Homo sapiens: one gene and its partners. The protein of the gene in region 2 binds, or shares a complex with, the protein of the main gene of each other region. Each region holds a gene or a part of one and is shown on either strand. Other genes may lie near its edges. A codon is read from its position in the direction of its gene.

The links.
Region 1: the proteins of LIMS1 (region 2) and RSU1 are in contact, whole or in part, in a crystal structure (PDB 7LT9), measured with the Homo sapiens proteins. Residues at the interface, in NP_001180417.1 of Homo sapiens: Cys252, Phe253, His254, Cys255, Asn256, Leu267, Asn268, Lys269, Ser279, Thr280, Cys281, Asn282, Thr283, Glu293, Phe294, Asp295, Met296, Lys297, Cys303, Lys306, Phe307, Pro308, Glu310, Leu311, Arg314, Leu315, Lys317, Leu318, Ala319; in NP_036557.1 of Homo sapiens: Asp21 (codon at 2,650), Ser23 (codon at 2,644), Asp24 (codon at 2,641), Gln44, Val46, Ser48, His49, Val67, Asn69, Phe71, Asn72, His90, Asn92, Met95, Glu112, Asp115, Thr117, Tyr118, Arg137, Ala138, Tyr140, Ser142, Asp143, Ile161, Ser163, Arg165, Asp166, Glu184, His186, Gln188.
Region 3: LIMS1 (region 2) and PARVA share a complex: the UniProt entries of both Homo sapiens proteins name them as parts of the heterotrimeric IPP (ILK-PINCH-PARVIN) complex.

Annotation. Positions count from the first base shown.
Region 1 is NC_000010.11:16,814,372-16,821,747, forward strand, and holds the start of RSU1 (ras suppressor protein 1), read right to left. Parts: upstream 3,054-7,376; 5' UTR 2,944-3,053; intron 2,714-2,943; 5' UTR 2,711-2,713; coding exon 2,602-2,710; intron 1-2,601. UniProt on the Homo sapiens protein: Potentially plays a role in the Ras signal transduction pathway. Capable of suppressing v-Ras transformation in vitro.
Region 2 is NC_000002.12:108,684,470-108,687,871, reverse strand, and holds the end of LIMS1 (LIM and senescent cell antigen-like-containing domain protein 1), read right to left. Parts: 3' UTR 626-3,402; downstream 1-625. UniProt on the Homo sapiens protein: Within the IPP (ILK-PINCH-PARVIN) complex, binds to F-actin, promoting F-actin bundling, a process required to generate force for actin cytoskeleton reorganization and subsequent dynamic cell adhesion events such as cell spreading and migration.
Region 3 is NC_000011.10:12,527,524-12,534,648, reverse strand, and holds part of PARVA (alpha-parvin), read right to left. Parts: intron 6,801-7,125; coding exon 6,724-6,800; 3' UTR 1-6,723. UniProt on the Homo sapiens protein: Plays a role in sarcomere organization and in smooth muscle cell contraction. Required for normal development of the embryonic cardiovascular system, and for normal septation of the heart outflow tract.

The DNA of each region.
Region 1 (7,376 bases), on a different chromosome or scaffold from region 2:
TGGGAGGGTGAGGCCCCAGGGAGCTGTGACTGCACCACTGCATTCCAGCCTGGGTGACAGAGCGAGACCCTGTTTTCAGGAAAAAAAAAAAAAAAAAGAAAAAAAAATTCTTACACTTATAATTAATGTAGCCATGTGAAGTATTTTAATACTTGTATATATTAAGCACTGTGTCAGTGTGTGTGCACTGCTGAGAAGTGAGCCCTGGTGGAGGCTTCGAAGAGCATCCTGGAACCCCCTAGGCTCCGAGAAGTCCTGAGGTCAGGGAGTTTGCAGAGAGCAGCCTTGGCTCAATGCTACAGAAGCCAGAGGAGATGGAATCTGCAAATCTCCAAATTCACTTCCACCCAACTTCCCAAAAAGTACTATTATCCGTTGTTAGCTACTTCTTTAGGAAAATTTAAGAATGATCTCGCTTTTCACCACCCAATGTTATACCGGAAATATATTTCAGGAAGCAAGTGGCTTTTCTTCCTTAATAAAAGCCAAGGCTTCAAAGAGATAACGGAGCTGAACCGAAATAGCTAAGCCATTCTCCCCATTTATAAATATTACATAAAGTCTCCTCTTCAAAAGCCGAAGGGTACAAAGCTCCTCTGCTGAAAGCAGCCTCTCTTCTACCTGGTGAGAATGAGTGCTGTAGGGAGGAAGGCCATGGGGCCAAGGTTCCCGCTATGCATCATCTTCCCTATCCCCTTCTCTTTCTCCTCTGTATCAACAGTGCCCCCAATAATGACCATGGTCATGGCAGAGCCGGGCAGGCGCAGCAAGGGGCAAACTCAGATATCCAATTCCAGAGGCATCTGCTCAGTTGCTGACAGCAAGGACCCTTACGGAATGCAAGAGACCAACACACACCAAGCCTGAGAGGCTAACTAGTACACAACCTAAGTTTAATGGCACGTATTTTCATAAAGCCTACGAAACGCAAATCTACGTTTCCTCCCTTTTCCTTCTGCCAAGACATATCAATAGCATCAACTCCAACCTCTGTCCCAGGCAGGTTTTCGAACCGTGAAAACCGTGAATTCACAGTAAACCTGACTCTGCAGTTCTCTCCATGCCTAAATGGCTATCCATCGCCTTTCAGGGTCTCCTGAACATCTCCCTTCTTCTCTCTTGTCACATCCTGGAGTTGATATCCCAAACTCACAGGCCTAATCCATCATTCTTTCATTTTCTTCATTCCTCAACTATTTTTGAGCATCTACTGTGCTCCAGGCACTATTATTAAAAAAATGCAAGCATGAATATTGCACAGCTTTTGTCTTCCCAATGTCCCAGCAGAGAAGAGAGACTTCTAGATTAAAAAAGAAAAAAATCAGTACAATCCTATGTGAGAGGAGTCACAAAGCAATACACACGACCACCTTCACAGAGGAGGGAAGGGATATGTTAGCCTGGTGCAGACGGATAAGGTTTTACACAGGTGGTGATGTCTAAGCTGACTCTTAGAAGTAAAAGGATTTCAGGTGCAAACGACTGAGAAAGAGGGAAAACAGAATTTGTAAAGGCACCAAGATCTGAACGAGTAGGCTCTGGTCCAGGAAGGGCAACAGGTTCAGAATGGCTGGAATGCCAGCTGCATGGAAGGGTAAGGTTGTGTTCAGATTCAGAAAGGCCTTGTACATCACGCCAAGAAACCTGGAGCATTACCGTCGATAATGGACAACCTGGAGAAGTGCGGAGAGGGTTTAAACCAAAGCCACGTCAGCCTGAAGAACTGCTTTAGCTCACTTATCACAGGTTTTTCAAATATTAGAATTAGTAGCCAACATCTAAAAATTAGCAAATTTCACATAAAAATATAGAATCTTGGTTCCTTTAAGAAAATAATCTGGCACATTGGGCCAACATTCCTATGGTGACATGTGTCTGAGTAGCAGGTGCAGCAGCTGGCCCCTTCAAGTGGGACACCTATCACCTAGTTCATAACCGCCCCTGACCGCCCTCACTTGGAGGCATGTGAATCTGCAATCCCTGGTTTTAAGGGAGAGGGTAACACCATAGACAGGGGTTACAGGAAAATGACACTGAAAGTGACCCAGTGATTAAACTGGGCAGTGAAACTGAAGGCAAGAGGGCAAGTTAGGAGGATTTCACCACAGCATGAGGAGGTGACAAAAGCCTGAACCAAGTTCGGAGAATAAATACTCAGAAGAATGTAAAGATTCAAGAAATGCTTAAAACGCTCCAGGCACAAGAATGCTTATTAACCATGGAACTTTTCTGTGTCATTTGTTCATGGACAAAGACTGTATTAGGAGACAGGAAGAAGGACTCAAAATTAATTTTCAATTTATAATTAAAGTGACTATTAAGCAAACTGTGGAAAATCCACCTCAATGCCATACAGCAGAGACAACCGATGAGGCACAGCTGTCTGTGTGATTCTCATCGTGGACTCTCAGGATCGTTTTCCAGGTGGAACAGAACAAATCCTACTGCAAACCCTCTGCGCGAAGCCCCTGACAAGTGAGGTTTACAAGCAGGGGCTGGGGTCTAAACCAGTACAATCGCTCACAGCAGGACCAGCAGTGAATTGGCAAACTTAGAAAGCCTTCCAGCTCATCCACGGGAGAGTCCTGCCCGAGAACTCACAGAGGCCGTTGACATCCAGCATGTTGGAGATGCCCCGGTCACTCATGTCCACCTCGGGCTGGTTCTTCTCCCGGCTCTCCTCCACCAACTTCTTCAGAGACTTGGACATGGTCTGCACCGAACAACAACAAAGCACGTGGGCGATGACAGCAAGCGCAGAGGCGGAAAGGCAAGAGGCCTTCGCTGCCACTCTGAGGCTTCCCCAGGGTTGGAGCGGGTGGGCGTCCGAGGGCGTCCCAGGGGCTGGTCCGGGTGCGGGGAGGGGATGGAGTGGGAAGGGTTCAGCCCCGCTGCGGCCACGCAGCGAGAAGCAACCCCAAGTGCAACACCGCACACACTCACCACGGAAGGTAGCCCCTAAGACGATGGGCGTGCAACCACAAGCTTCGGCAGAACGCACTCCAGCTGCCCTCACTCCCTGCAACACCGGCACTGAACAGCGAACACGCCCTGTCTCGGCGCCCCGCGCAGGCGCACACAGCGCCGCTGCCAGCTCCACGCCCGACCCTACCCATATTAGGAGAACAGCTCTCCAGACGTGTCTCCAGGGCCAGGCTCCGCCCTTAAAAGTCTGTGGAAGAGGCTGGCTAATCACGTTCGTTATTCGGCTTCGAGACCCCGCCCCACGCTGAGGATAGTTTATCCCGGTGGCGTCCACCCCACGGTTTGGGACGCTGATTGGGCCGAAGTTGGCGCGTGCGCAGTAGACTTGGCGCAAGCTCAGTTGATGGGTCGAAGCCCAGAGGGCTGTGGGCGGAAGTGGGGAAGTTTGTGGCGTGACTGTGTAAGGGAGGGTGGTGGCTCAGGGTGGGTGTTGCGAAAGCTGGAAGTAAATTGCTTCCGAATGTTTCGCTTGTGTAATAGCCGCTCCACTCGCCAGAAGTTGCTACCCTGAGCCCGTCTCCACAATGTGCCTCTGAGGGACCTTGTGGGGCACGCAGTTTCCCGCCCTATTAAGAGCTTCTCCAGGCGGGGATTCCGGCGCGGTCTGCGTTTCCCCAGCGCCCTGCTGGAAATCTTTTTTGACAGGTTTCTAAGGCTGGCTTTTAGCCTTTTTACTTGTAGCTAGAACCTACAAGTAAAACCCTACTATTTTAAAAGTCATTTGAAAACACCACTAAAGCGATGTGTCTTTCCCAACTAGGACTTTTACATTTGTGAAACATGACGTTCTGGCTTCCAGGAATCTCTTGCTTTCTCTTCCAAAAGCAACCAAATTTTAAATTCTAGAGAAACTGTTGCCCTCTGCCTCCCTATTTCCTGACCCAGTCTCAGTCACCCAGCAACATCCTGTGCTTCTCTCACCAAAAACCCTGTCCTGAGAGACTATTTTATACTATGGAATAAAAATTGGCACCAGGCACTTTTCTTCTACTGGTCACCTAAATTGATGATAAGACGGATGCCACACATATGCATTTATATATTGTAGATTGTAGCAGGGATCAAAGCCTTAAGGAGATGTGGTAAAATAATGTAATTATATCTCCGAACCAATTGGATAAAAAAAGGATCTGCACTCTTAAATTCGAAAGCAGGTATTTCTTGCTTAAAAAACATTCCAGATGAAAGAGTTATTCCTCCATTAGTCTTCTTTGATCTGGAACCGTCCTTGGCTTTTATGTTTATTGAACTAGACATTATTTAAGAATACAGACCAGGTATTGTGTGGAATATCCTTCAAAGTAAGTTTGATGTTCCCTTTCAGGTTATGAATTTTTGGAGAAACACCACTAAAGCGATGTGTCTTTTCCAGTGCATGATATCAAGGTACAGATGGCATCGGTTTCTCCCAGTATAGGTGATGTTCACTTAAATAAGGTAGTGTCTGCCAGGTTTCTTCACCATAAAGTTACTATTTTTTTCTTTATGATTAAAAATAATGCTGGGGGGAGGTGCTACTTGATTACACCCCATTCCTCATCTAATTTTTACCCACAAGTTTTAGCATCCACTGATGATTTTCTAACTTCATAATTTCATCAATACGTATTAGTAGGTAATCTCCTAATACATTTATTTCTTGAATCATTAACTCTTTTAAAGCAAAAGTCCTGTTTTGAAGCAATCAGAATTTTTCTTATTCTATCAATTTCTAATAGTGAATCTTGCCTAGGTAGGCTGAAGACATACAGTACCTGTGTTAGTCGGCTAGGGCTGTCGTAACAATATACCACAGCCTGGATGGCTTAAACAACAGAAATTTCTCACAATCCTGGAAGTTCTAGATCAAGGTGCCAGCAGATTTGATTTATCCTGTGGCCTCTCCCCTGCCTCGTGGACGACTGTCTTCTCTTGGTGTCCCTCCAGGGCATTTTCTCTATGCAGTCACACCCTTGGTGTCTCTTCTTCTAAGGACACCAGTCCTATTGGACTGCCGGCCTATAATAACACCCTGCATTTGTTTCATGAATGTACTCTCTTCTCAGGTATCACCGAGGATAATAGTTTTTAAACCTCTCTTCTGTTCACTCAATTATGTTTCTTCAAGGGTCCATTCTTACGTGTATTTATCTAGTCTTTTCCCTAGAAAAGAAAGATTCTTCCCCTCTCTGGTGATTGATTCTTGGTTGTTCTTTTGAGTTCAAGTGTGAAGATCTGAACTGGTTTTTCTAGATAGCTGGAGTGGTCTCTTGTTTGTTTGTATTGTTTTCCTCCTAGATCCCTAGACTGATAGTCGAATTTCTTCAGAGGCAAGAACCCAGTATTATGCCTGCAGGTCATCACCCGGCTACCTTTGCAGGTGGAGGGAAATGGTGGATTGTGAGTGCCAGTTAGGGCAACTCCCTGACTTTGGTTTTAGCCCCTCACACTGCACCAGCCAGCCCCACATCCAGGTTACACCTGGAACAGAGAGTCCCAGCCCTCCTGCATGTCTCTCTTGAAGTTATTTTGAGCTGCATGCCTCCATTCACTTCTGTTTCATAGGAATTTGTTTTCACTCCTGTTTGAGATAGGAAAAACCAAACTGTTTTTGCTACTCTCCACTGGCTCAACACTTCTGACACCAGAGAATCCCCCACACATGAAACAGTTCTCCAGCAGACACCAGCTCGGTGTCTTACAGTTTAACTTAATTCTGACACTGTCTACCTCAACTTATAGTCAAATCCCACAAGTTAAGGGTTCATTTCCACAAGACTTTAGGTTGACTGTCACCTACACTTCTGACTGACCAGCTATAAATCAGGGTTCCCACACCCCCTTCTCAGGTTTGATTAATTTGCTAGGATGATGGTTAGCCTGTCCAGGGTCCTGATTGCTAGCAGTGAAACTTCATGGTGACACAATTTGGAATCAGGAAACTTATCCCTTGGCCACTAGATCTGGGAAGTTGGCTCAATGTATGTTTCACCAGATAAGAATATTAAGGTTTTTGCCTCAGGACTGGCTCAGGAAATCAAGCAAGATGGAGCTGGGAAGTGTGCTTTGTGAAGCTGGGAGACATCAGCTGATAGTCTTGTATGGCTGTCTTGTTCTCTGCTTTATCCTCAGTGCGCTGAGTACGTATCACATAGCTGATGCTCAATAAACATTTGGAAACAAGTGAATTAAATGTAAAGCAGAACCAGAGGATATACGGTGGGTCTTACGAATGAGAGTACAGTTGACTCTTTTCTCCTTCTTCCAGCTGAATTACTCAAAAACTGAATTACTCAATAACTACTTCCCTTGGCTATACACGAAAATGTCATGCTCCCAAGCCTGACCATCCCTAACCCACTAAAAAATCACTGCTTATTTCCTAGATGCCCAGCCTGGAAGATTTTGTAAAGCTTCATTTTGTCTCTTTTTTTCTGTATTTTTAATTTTAAAATTACATAATAATATTGACTATGCTTTCCTCAATTTCAGGTACACACTTCCCAGATATTCCAATATGCCTCCTAGAAAAGCATGCCCTTCTGAGTGGAAATGATACCGTTACTCTAATGATGCAGTCCATGCTCTAAGCATCATTTTTTTGACAGTGACATCATGTTAATCTTTCTTTCAGAAAAGTACTATGTCATTTCATGTTATTGTTAAACTTTCCCTGTATTCTGTACTTTTGCAATTCATTTTTTGATAAAAGAGGAAGATCTTATATCTGTCACATTTCGTCTGTTACAATTGGCCCATTGTTGTAGCTTATCAAGACCTTTTGGATTTGATGGTGTTACTTATCGCATTCACTGTCCTTTCCAATGTAATTGTCACCCATAAAGTTGATATGTCTATCCATAATACAAAAAGGGAGCAGGAATTGTTGTTGTTGTTGTTTGTTTTTTTGAGATGGAGTCTCATTCTGTAACCCACACTGGAGTGAAGTGGCGCGATGTTGGCTCACTGAAACCTCCGCCTCCTAGGTTCAAGTGATTGTCCAGCCTCAGCCTCCTGAGTAGCTGAATTTTCAAGGTTAGAGTATTTTATTTCTGTGGCTCCATACTCTGTCCAGAAATAATTATCTGCCATTTGAGTATTAGAGTAAGATGAAGTTACATTCCTCAGCTTCTCTCATTCACATGGTCTTTTGTTAATAACCCTTGATTTTGCATAATTAACATAAAGCAAATCTCCTTTGTAAAGGCTTCCGCTTTTCTAGAGGCACTGAAAAACTTTATAAAAGCATTGAATTTTCTTATGAAAAGGAAGCTAATAACTACCTCACTTAGTTACATGTCTGGCAGCATTGGAGATAAGGATGTGCTACTGAACTTTCTACTTCTTGTTAAGTGGCAAACCATATTGTTTATTTATAACTTAACATATTGTGTTAAGGAATAGGCAATGGT
Region 2 (3,402 bases):
TTAACCCAAGCCTCCTCCACCCCACTATATTAGCCCAAGCCTAGAGTATCAGATCTGGATATTTGGGTAAAGATGCAGACAAATTTTGAGTTGAAAAAGAAAGAACTTAATTGCACCATTGCACTCCAGCTGAGGGCAGGGCACAGTGGCTCATTGCCTGTAATCCCAGCACACCATTGCACTGCAACCTCTGCCCCCTGGATTCAAGTGATTCTACTGCCTCAGCCTCCCAAGTAGCTGGGACTACAGGTGCACACCACCACGCCCTATTAATTTTTGTATTTTTAATAGAGATGAGGTTTCACTGTGTTGGCCAGGCTGGTCTCAAACTCCTGACCTCAAGTGATCCACTGGCCTCGGCCTCCCAAAGTGCTGGGATTACAGGTGTGAGCCACTGTGCCTGGACTGTATCTCCTTCTTAATAATAATAATAATTAAAAAACCCAGCATTTACATTGAGTAGAGGGAAGACTACACCATTGTTCTAGATGGTTCAAAATTTGGCTTATCTATAGTAACCAGGTCATTTTATTCATTTACTTGTTTCTATTATATATTCATGAATACTTCAATTTTCATATGTATTTCACATATATACCATTCAAAATAAACAATATACAACAGGTTATTGTTAACAATTATAAACATTTATTAAGCACCAAGAATATACTGTGGTGGTTGCTATATGAAAACATAATTACCAATATAGTATCCCTGCCATTGAGCTTACAATCTAAAACGAAATACAAGGCTATGAGCCTATCTAAAAACTTCCTTAACTTAGAAATGGCTACTTTGGCAAATGAGTGAGGCAAAATGACCTATTATTCAGGTGCAGTGCTAATAAGGCTTTGAATATCATCCAAAGAATGTTTTACTTGTACCCATTGTTCCTGATTATGTTACACTTGCTAAGAAAAACAGTACTTAGAATTTTGGCATGAACAATGAATTATTTCAAATTGTCTTGTAGGACTTTAAACAAAGAGATGCTTACTGGCCTAAGTTTTCCAGCAGCCAGGGAAAGCCCTATTAAAAATATTATGAACTAGACCAAGTTTCTCTTTTAATCCACTTACACTTTTTTTTTTTTTTTGAGACGGAGTCTTGCTCTGTCGCCCAGGCTGGAGTGCAGTGGTGCAATCTCGGCTCACTGCAAGCTCCGCCTCCTGGGTTCAAGCCATTCTCCTACCTCAGCCTCCCGAGTAGCTGGGACTACAAGCGCCCGCCACCACGCCTGGCTAATGTTTTTTTTTGTATTTTTAGTAGAGACGGGGTTTCACCTTGTTAGCCAGGATAGTCTGGATCTCCTGACCTCGTGATCCGCCCCCCTCGGCCTCCCAAAGTGCTGGGATTACAGGCATGAGCCACCACGCCCGGCCCACTTACACTTTTTAAACTTCTTCCTCTTCTCCTATACCTAAGGGCTCCAATGATACTACTTATCAGGGAAGAAAGTACTGTATCTAGATAAACTACCCTTAAGTATTACAGGCTTAGCAAGTTGAATTTCTAGAAAATACTCATTCATAATTTATTTATTTATTTTTTTTGAGACAGAGTCTTGCTCTGTTGCCCAGGCTGGAGTGCAGTGGCGTGATCTTGGCTCACTGCAAGCTCTGCCTCCCGGGTTCCCACCATTCTCCTGCCTCAGCCTCCCGAGTAGCTGGGACTGCAGGTGCCCGCCACCACGCCCGGCTAATTTTTTTGTAGTAGAGATGGGGTTTCAGTGGTAGCCAGGATGGTCTTGATCTCCTGACCTCGTGATCCACCTGCCTCGACCTCCCAAAGTGCTGGGATTACAGGTGTGAGGCACCGTGCCTGTCCACTAATTCATATTTTAAAAGAGGACTGAGCAAAGACAGCAATGGAACCTCTGGCTGCAGGAGATGCCTGGGTATGCCTGATATGTAAACAAACACAAGCAGTCGAGTTCAGGCCATGCATCTTCAAAGTGACGAAGAATATATGTAAATGCTTGTTTTTCTCCTCCATATTTCTCGTGTAGAGGTATATGAGAATTTAGCATCAAGACGCTATACTGCAAACCCTGTTCTGTGTTGCCTATATTCATAGCATAATATTTAATAAATACTCCCAAGGTTGTCATTGCTGGTCACATATTAGCTGACAAAGGCACACTGAAGGGACTTTGATTCTTACTGTAAAATGCAAAGATTGTTTTAAACTACTCAACATATACAATCTTAAACTATGTGATGATTATTCTCGATCATTTATGATAATTTCAATTCTAAAAGATTACTAAAAAAAATTGGTTGTAGGGTATCTGAAAACAAAAATAGAATGTACTCCATAAAGTACATGCACAGAATTTTTAAAAATGCAGGCATACAAATATTTAATGGCAGAGTGGTAATAACCTGAGACTTTTTAAAAATGGCAAAACAATATTTCAGCAATTTTTGGAAAAAAAACCCAAATATTTTCCCTAAGAAGTCTCTCTTGGCAACTTTCTTTTTAAGCAACAAAGCAGCAGCAACATTTTTAAATGTTCATAAAGCTCGCTTTCCATTAACAAGTTTATTAAGGAAGAGTGGTCCTGAAACTTCAGGATAAAACTTTTGATAAAAATAGAATCACTAATTTTGACCTAAAACAGACACTAAAACACCCCTCCTTCCAATTTAAGAGTGTCATTTATACCTCCTACTTACAGTAAATAAATCAAATTAATTATAAGATTTCAAATGGAAAATCTGAAACACATATCAACATCATTTTCTTCTAATAAGATAACAGAAATTAACTTCAATGGATTTCCCCAAAAAGAGAATAGTTTCTAAAAACTTAATTACAGCTGTGGTAAATGAATCTGGGTTTACCAATCTCAGATCTCAATGCACTTAGTTTTAGTTGGTATTCTGTGAGATGGCTAGAATTCCTGATTTAAGTATGTAGTATGTATGTTTTTAAGGCAAGGCAAGTTTGAGTATGTATAAAGCATAGATATTAGCATGGTTATAAAGGCAATATGACCGACATACACATTCAGTTTTCTGAAGCAATATATTCCAAGCTACATACAATTTAATTTCATGTCCTATTCTAAGACTACATGCTTAACATTAAGCTTAGAAACATAATTGCTGTAATACATTAAAAATACTTCATTTTCCAATATTGTAAAGTATATTTCCAAATACCTGGTATAAATTTTTTTTTGCACAAAAATTTAAAGGACATCCTACAGCTAGCTATTACTACTGCGTTAAGTAATCATTTGAAGGAAGAATTCACAAGGAGAGCAGGTTATAAAACTAAGCATAATAATTATTGCATTTAACTAAAAAAAATCAAGTAGTTCTGAATTACACTTGTTTTTTGTCTTAGTAATGTGCATATTCACTTTCTAGCTACTAGTTTGATAAATATACTAAG
Region 3 (7,125 bases), on a different chromosome or scaffold from region 2:
AAGCGGTTGCCTTAATGACATTTGTGTGTCTTGGAATGACAGCCTGTGCTAACAAATTGCATCTCAAGATGTGAAAACATGAAGATCAATAAAAAGAAATGAAAAGTCTGCTTCATTGATAAAACATCATTTATCTTAATAATGGGTACTTCTCTGAATTTCCCAAGTGCCCTTCCAAATGCCAGTATCAAAGCCAGTGCCCACATGTGTGTAGAAAGTTCAGGAGGGTTCAGGGGAGTTGAGGCAGGAACACAGGCTGCTCAGCCCAGGGGGTCCACCGAGGAGAAGCATCATTCTGGGCCAGTCACCCACTGGACTGGTTTCCAACCAAGGAGATTTCAAGCGGGGATTTCCAAGCATATTTCTGGAATTTCAAAACTTCCAGTGAAAATAATATACAATTGACCCTTGAACAACAATGATTTGAACTGGGCAGGTCCACTTGTTCATGGATTTTTGTTTTGTTTTGTTTTGTTTTTTTGAGACGCAGTCTTGCTCTGTTGCCCAGGCTTGAGTGCAGTGATGCGATCTCAGCTCATTGCAACCTCTGCCTCCTGGGTTCAAGCAATACTTCTGCCTCAGCCCCCTGAGTAGCTGGGATTACAGGCACGCACCACCACACCTGGCTAATTTTTTGTATTTTTAGTACAGACGGGGTTTCACCATATTAGCCAGGATAGTCTCAATCTCCTGACCTTGTGATCTGTCCGTCTCGGCCTCCCAAAGTGCTGGGATTACAGGTGTGAGCCACCGTGCTCGGCCCATGGATTTTTTTTCTGCCTCTGCCACCCCTCAGACAGCAAGACCAACCCCTACTCCTCCTCCTCCTCCTCCTCCTCCGCCTACTCAATGTGATGACCATGAGGATGAGGACTTTATGATGACCTGCTTTCACTTAATAGTAAATATATTTTCTCTTGCTTATGTTTTTCTTAGTAACATTTTTTCTCTAGCTTACCGTATGGTAAGGATATAGTATATAATGCACATAACATACTAGCTATGTGTTAATTGACCGTGTTCAGTAAGGCTATTAGTATTATAGTTACGTTTTGGGGGAGTCAAGTTACATGCAAATTTTCAGCTGCTCAGGGGTCGGTGCCCATATCATTCAAGGATCAACCGTACTTTCATATGAAAGTTGTTTCACCAAACATTGTGAAACATTAAGTGACCCCCTTTTGGTAGATTTTATATAATGTGGTGGGCATTGGAGCAGTTATAGTTCATGCTGATTAGTATGAATTTTGAAAATGTATTATTCCACATCCAGGAGGCTTGCTTATAGTTTGTCAAGCCCACAGGCTGAATGGTGGGATTCCTGCTCCTGCCGTTGGTAAAACAGGAGTCCTCCTCCGAGGTGAGAGGGCTGGAAGCACTGGTCTCCATGGATCAGCGTTCTGGCCTGGTAGGCCCCTTATTTCATTCCCTCCACACATGCAGCCTCGTCCACTCTGTCCAGTTCCCCTAGCTCTTCTCAGGACACATTGTGGAGAGGCTGGGGGTAGTCCAGGAGTTCCTGTCCATCAGCAGCAGCAGGTTAGGAGGAGCTATGGGATGCCCAGAGGTTGCTAAGACCAGATTGGTGTTGGGGTGGGCAGAGGTCTGATCTCCTCTCCTGGTCTCCTCCGCTCCCCAGCCAGGACCATGGTATGACATGAGAAAGGCAACCCCAGACTCCATATTGCTGACGTAGCTTTCCCCAGAGTTTTCCTACACAGTGGGACATTTAAAAAGGTAGATGGCAACCTGTTTTTCAAAGGAGAAAAATCAGCACTCCCGATGCCTGCGATCGGATCCGTCTTCTCCCTCATTCTGTGTCCTCTAGCCATGCTGGCTTTCCGCACTCCTCTGGGGAGCCAGGTCTTCTTGTCTGGGGATCCTCCTCCGTGGTGCGCCCTGGAGTGGCAGGCTTCTCATTGGAGTAGCTCCACGACTGAGGGATTACTTTAAAATGCCACTTTGCCGGAGACTTCTCATGACCTTAAATCTACATTAGAACTCTTTCATAGATTTTAGTACTTCTCCATCGCGACAGTCACAATTTGTAACTAACGTCGATTCATAGTTATTTTTCATCTGTCTCCCCTGCTAGCTATAATCTCTCACTCACCCTTGGACATGCTGCACTCAACACATACTTGCCGAATATATGACTAAATGAAGTCCTGAGTTCAGAGTACTCATCCTAGAAATTTCTCAGGGGACAGATACATCCTGTGATCAAACAAGATTGGGACCCATCGTACCCCGTCTTCCCTTAGAAAGTCCTAATACGCATTATGTAGGGGACTCTGAGGTGCGCTCCAACTAGAAAACAAAAAGCGTCAGTAAGCTAACTTTCTTCACCTCATGTTTCCTAAACATATTTAAACGTGACTTTTTTTTTCATCTAACATTTACTAATATCCTGTAGAATTTATTTTTAAGAGATGCTTTCTTGCAGGATCCTACTGGGAAGCCTGAGGTTCTCAAGGTCATCAGGCTTGGTTTGGGGGCAGCACCCTCATGGCTGCATTGCTGTTGTCATGAACACGTGAACACGCATGCACACGTTCACATATGCGACCACCACTGTAGTAAAGCATGGGCTATAAGCAGAGTTTGGAGCTAGCCTGGGGTTACAGTTTTCAGGGAGCAGAGAGTAAAAACACAGTCGAAACTCTGGTATTTGTAAATGTAGCCTTTGTAGTTAGGATTGTGAGTAACTCATACTGACTTTTCTTTTGGTAAGACCCAAATCTGCAAGTATTTGGGAAGCTGATGTGTGGAGGCAGGTCCCATAGGTGGTGAGTCAGTCTACCTACCCTACCCGGCCTTGCAGCTTAATGCAGCTCTCTTGTTTTCAGCAGCTGCAGCAATTCTCTTGGATTTTCCAATAGAGTTAAGCAAATTTTTGGGGGAAATGACACGCAATCTTGGAATTAGTGAAGATTTCAGGACATATCCCTCTTGCCTATCTAGGATGTATTATAAAGGTAAGATTCCTGAGGTGGAGCTCTATTAAAGGCAGCGGATCTCAAATTAGTTTTGATCAGCCTCCACTTAGGCACGGCAAAACTGTTTCACCTACCGACTCCATCTAGTCTTATTTTCCAGTGGAAAAATAAATGAGTGATAATTTGTGGGGAGTGGATTATGTATACATTTGTTCTAGCACTGGACTATGGATGATTCCTATTTGAACCACAATGTATACATGTCTCAGAGTCTAGTTATTGAAAAATTACAGCTCCAGAATACTGTTGATGCAAATAAGCTTCAAGTATACTCTGTAGGGTTAACCAAGCAACCCACAACAAAACAAACTGATGATAATGCAAGCTAACAGTAATTCATAATTAAAAAGCACCAATAGCAGCAATTGAAAATTGCAACCAACTCGAGGCAACACTGATGATGTGCTGATAAAGAAGCCTTCTCCCAGATCGGGAAATGTCATCTCTGTGCCTGCACATGTGAAACTGGAGCCTTCTAATATAGCAGGCGAGCACTGCATTGCTGGCAGCTAGACTTTATAGTACAGTATTATAGCGTATGTAGTAACCTTTGTGATGCTTAGTGGATTACAAATTCGTAGTCCTGGTAATATATAAAAATGAAACCTTCATCAATCTGCATACAATTCACCATAAGGTTCCAAAAGAGGACTTAAAAACATTCGGTTCGAGGCACATGAGGATGCCTCTGATAATGTGCCCCAGCCTCTGGTCCTGCACCCCATAGGTTTTAGACTCTACTTTTGAAATCATTGTCTAGGCAGCCTTTCCTCCTTCGGCTAGGGCTTTTTTCCTTTCCTAGCTCGAGCAGACTGGAGATACGCATTTGGATTTATGAAGTGCTCAGATTGTTATTTTAAAATGTGAAAGGAGTTCTTTTTAATACCCAGGGTAATACAATATCCAAGATATAACATTAAGTGATAAAAAACAAAGTGTATGACAGTATAGATGACATCCTACTTATATTTTTTGAAGCCCGCAGATTTTATATGTATGTTTGTGCTTTACATGCCTAGAGTATCTCTGGCAGTGTGTGTAAGAAATGGATCAAAACAGTTGCCTCCAGGGAGAGGTAATGGGTGCCGGAGGAGAGAGGGAGGCTTAGGTTTTCCACTAGATACCTATTTGCGCTTTTTAAATTTTGCACCATGTATGTATTAAGCATTAAAAATAACTGAGTTTAAATTAACAGAAAAGAAAAGAAAACCCAGTGAGCCTATGAAGTGTTGATTCTCATTTTGGTTTCTTTTTTCTTTTTTTTAAAGATGAAGATTAAGTTTGTTTTATTTATTCTTGATTCCTCTTTTGCCTTTCAAAGTCATGGTCATATATTAAGTAGGAGATTCCAGGTTCTAAAGTAAAATATCGAACTGAGATGACAGCATTAGAAAACCAGGCCCAGGACCTGGGATTCTGGGCTGAGACAAAGAACTCAATCCCAAAACACAATTTTCTGATAAATTAGAACTGTTATTTAAAAACTTTCCTAGTGTTCCAATGTATTTTCATACTGTATATATGTAAAATACAAAAGGAGCACTCTTAGTAAGGATACTTGTACATTTGTAACTTGAATATAAGAAAAAGAGACCAAAAAAGAGACAAAATTCATAAAGCAAAGCATGTTTAAATGAATGCATTCCTCTTACTTCATCCTGCTTCAGTATTGCTCAAGAAAATGAAGCAATTATTTATCTTGATTTGCTACCAGGAATTTTTTTAAAAGCAAAAGAAATATTACACTATTTAGTGTTTCCTAATAAAAAATAAAATTTCACTAATTATGTAAAAAAGAATTGTATTCTTTTACATAGATCAACACAAAACAGTACATTGCCTTTGTATGTTAAATGCTCATTATGCTGAGTGACAATTCTAAGAGCAAAGACATGTAGTTATCTAAATTTTATGGGTCCTCAATTACTGCAGATAGACAGTACAGTAAGAGACAGTACAGTAAGAAATAAAAAGGCTGAAAGGAATGTTTTGGACATTATAGGAGGCCTAACTTTGGGTGGTGTAGATACAGATCAAAATGAATTCTCAAACCAGAGATGGGCTTTGTGGAATGGGCCTAAAGTAGTGACAAGGTAGTCACAGACTTCTGGAGGAGGGTACTTGGGCTGGTGTCTACCTGGCATATTTAGGAACATTCCATAACGAGATGTAATATCAGCACAATTGATTATTTAGCCCAAGGTCTCAGTCAGTTGATGGCTACAAGTGTTAAGTACCACAAGCCCCACCTCTATCTCTGTATGTTTAGAGTGCAAATATTTTCCCCATGCTTCTCGTCCCCTAGTCACTGCCCACCCCCCTCCGCCCTTCCCTATTCTTACAGGACTTAGCAGGCTGGCACACTAGAGCTCTGTCTTTCAAAGTCAAGTTCACATAGAGGAGATACAAGTAACCACAAGCCCTTGAGTAACCCACGCAAAGAAACTGCTTGGCTTTGGTCTAAATGACTTACATTTTTCCTCGCTTGAATTAGCCGGTAATTACATGTGGGCAGACTTAGCCAGAATAGTCTAAATGATCAATTAGAAGGCAAAAAGAAGTTCCTTTCTTTAAAGTTCAAGGGTCCCTGTTGAAGAGCCCTACTTCCAAAGTGATGCTCACATGGGCCCGTGCCCAGCTCTCTGCGGTGCCTGAGCATATTGTACATTTGCTTAACGATAATGAATTTAGTACTTATTTTGCAGGAAAATATAGGGCATTTCCATTACATGCAATCAAGCAAAAAGGCTGCAAAATGTGCCACTCCATTAATTCTAAACAAAATCCTTCCCAAATGTCACCCTGAAACCAAAGTACAGAGTTATTATAAATCTGAAGGAATTAAGAGTAATTTTCATTTGTACAAAGGATGTGAGGGACATGACTCCTGCCACACACACACTATTAATTGGGTTAAATCCAATTTGCCAATTTCAGTGTGAATCACTAAGCTCTGACCTAGCTTGCCCCAGTGGTGAGATCAGTGGGTTCTCGTGTTTTTGGCTCAGGTGTACATGTGCACGTGCTCAGATGTGCACACACATACACAACTTTAGAACATGCAAAGAACATAATGTAATTGGCTTGTTATAAACATGTTGTACTGTCTACTATTGAGGAATGCATACTTAGCTAAAAAGAAAAGCAAAACCTTGATGATTGGACTCAGAATAGTGGTTACCTTTAGGGAGAAGGGAGAGGTTATGTTCAAAGAGGAAAAAAATTCCAACTTCTGGCAAGTCATTTAACCTCCAAGCCTTAGTTTCCTCATCTGTAAAAGGGGAATGAAACACCTACGTCAATGGGAGTCCTGAAGATTAATGGCCTTGAGTATATCAGAGCAGAGCACTTAGTGTGGGGCCTGACACACAGTTAGCATCCTTTGAATGGTAACTAGGATCTTTATTTTCATCTTGTGGGGACTCTTTTGCCTAAGCTGGTTCCCAAATCATGGAGGGAAATCTGGACCTGGCACCGGGAAGGGAACAACCTTCCCAACCTTCATTGCTAGGTTGGTCCCCAGCGCCTGGGAGGGATGGGTCAGCCCACTGAGTTATTGATGATTTCCTTCCTAATTTCAGTTTCCACTATCTCTGGGTTGCAGCTGGACTTGTGGGAGAGCACAGTGCAAGAGACAGGAATAAGCAGGGTAAGGCAGTTCGGAGGAGGGTCCAGTACGCCAACAGCAAGAACTCTTGGGCAGTGGTGGGCCCAGGGCAGCCCCTCACTCCACGTTACGGTACTTGGTGAAGAGGTTGTACAACACTCGTAGTGTAGATTTCAGGTCACAGTTGACTATGTCTGCGTAGAAAACAAAAAACACCAATTGTTTCCATGGGGCCACATGTTCCAAAGCTGGCATACACTGCCCCTCCCTTCCACCCACCACCCAATCCCATGTACCCAGCATGTTCGGGGCAGATGGGTAGAGTGGGCAGCGAGAATTCAGAGCAGGGGGCAGTGAGGGTAGAGGTGCTGGGGCACAGCATCTCCAGATAAGAAGGCCTGACCCTCCCCACAATCCCCACCTGTCCCAGGGGCTCTTTGCCCACTGCCTCCAACCTCCATCATAGAACCAACCATGGGTGGTGAAAAGGAGGGGAAGGCCTGGGGCTGCAGTGGAAGA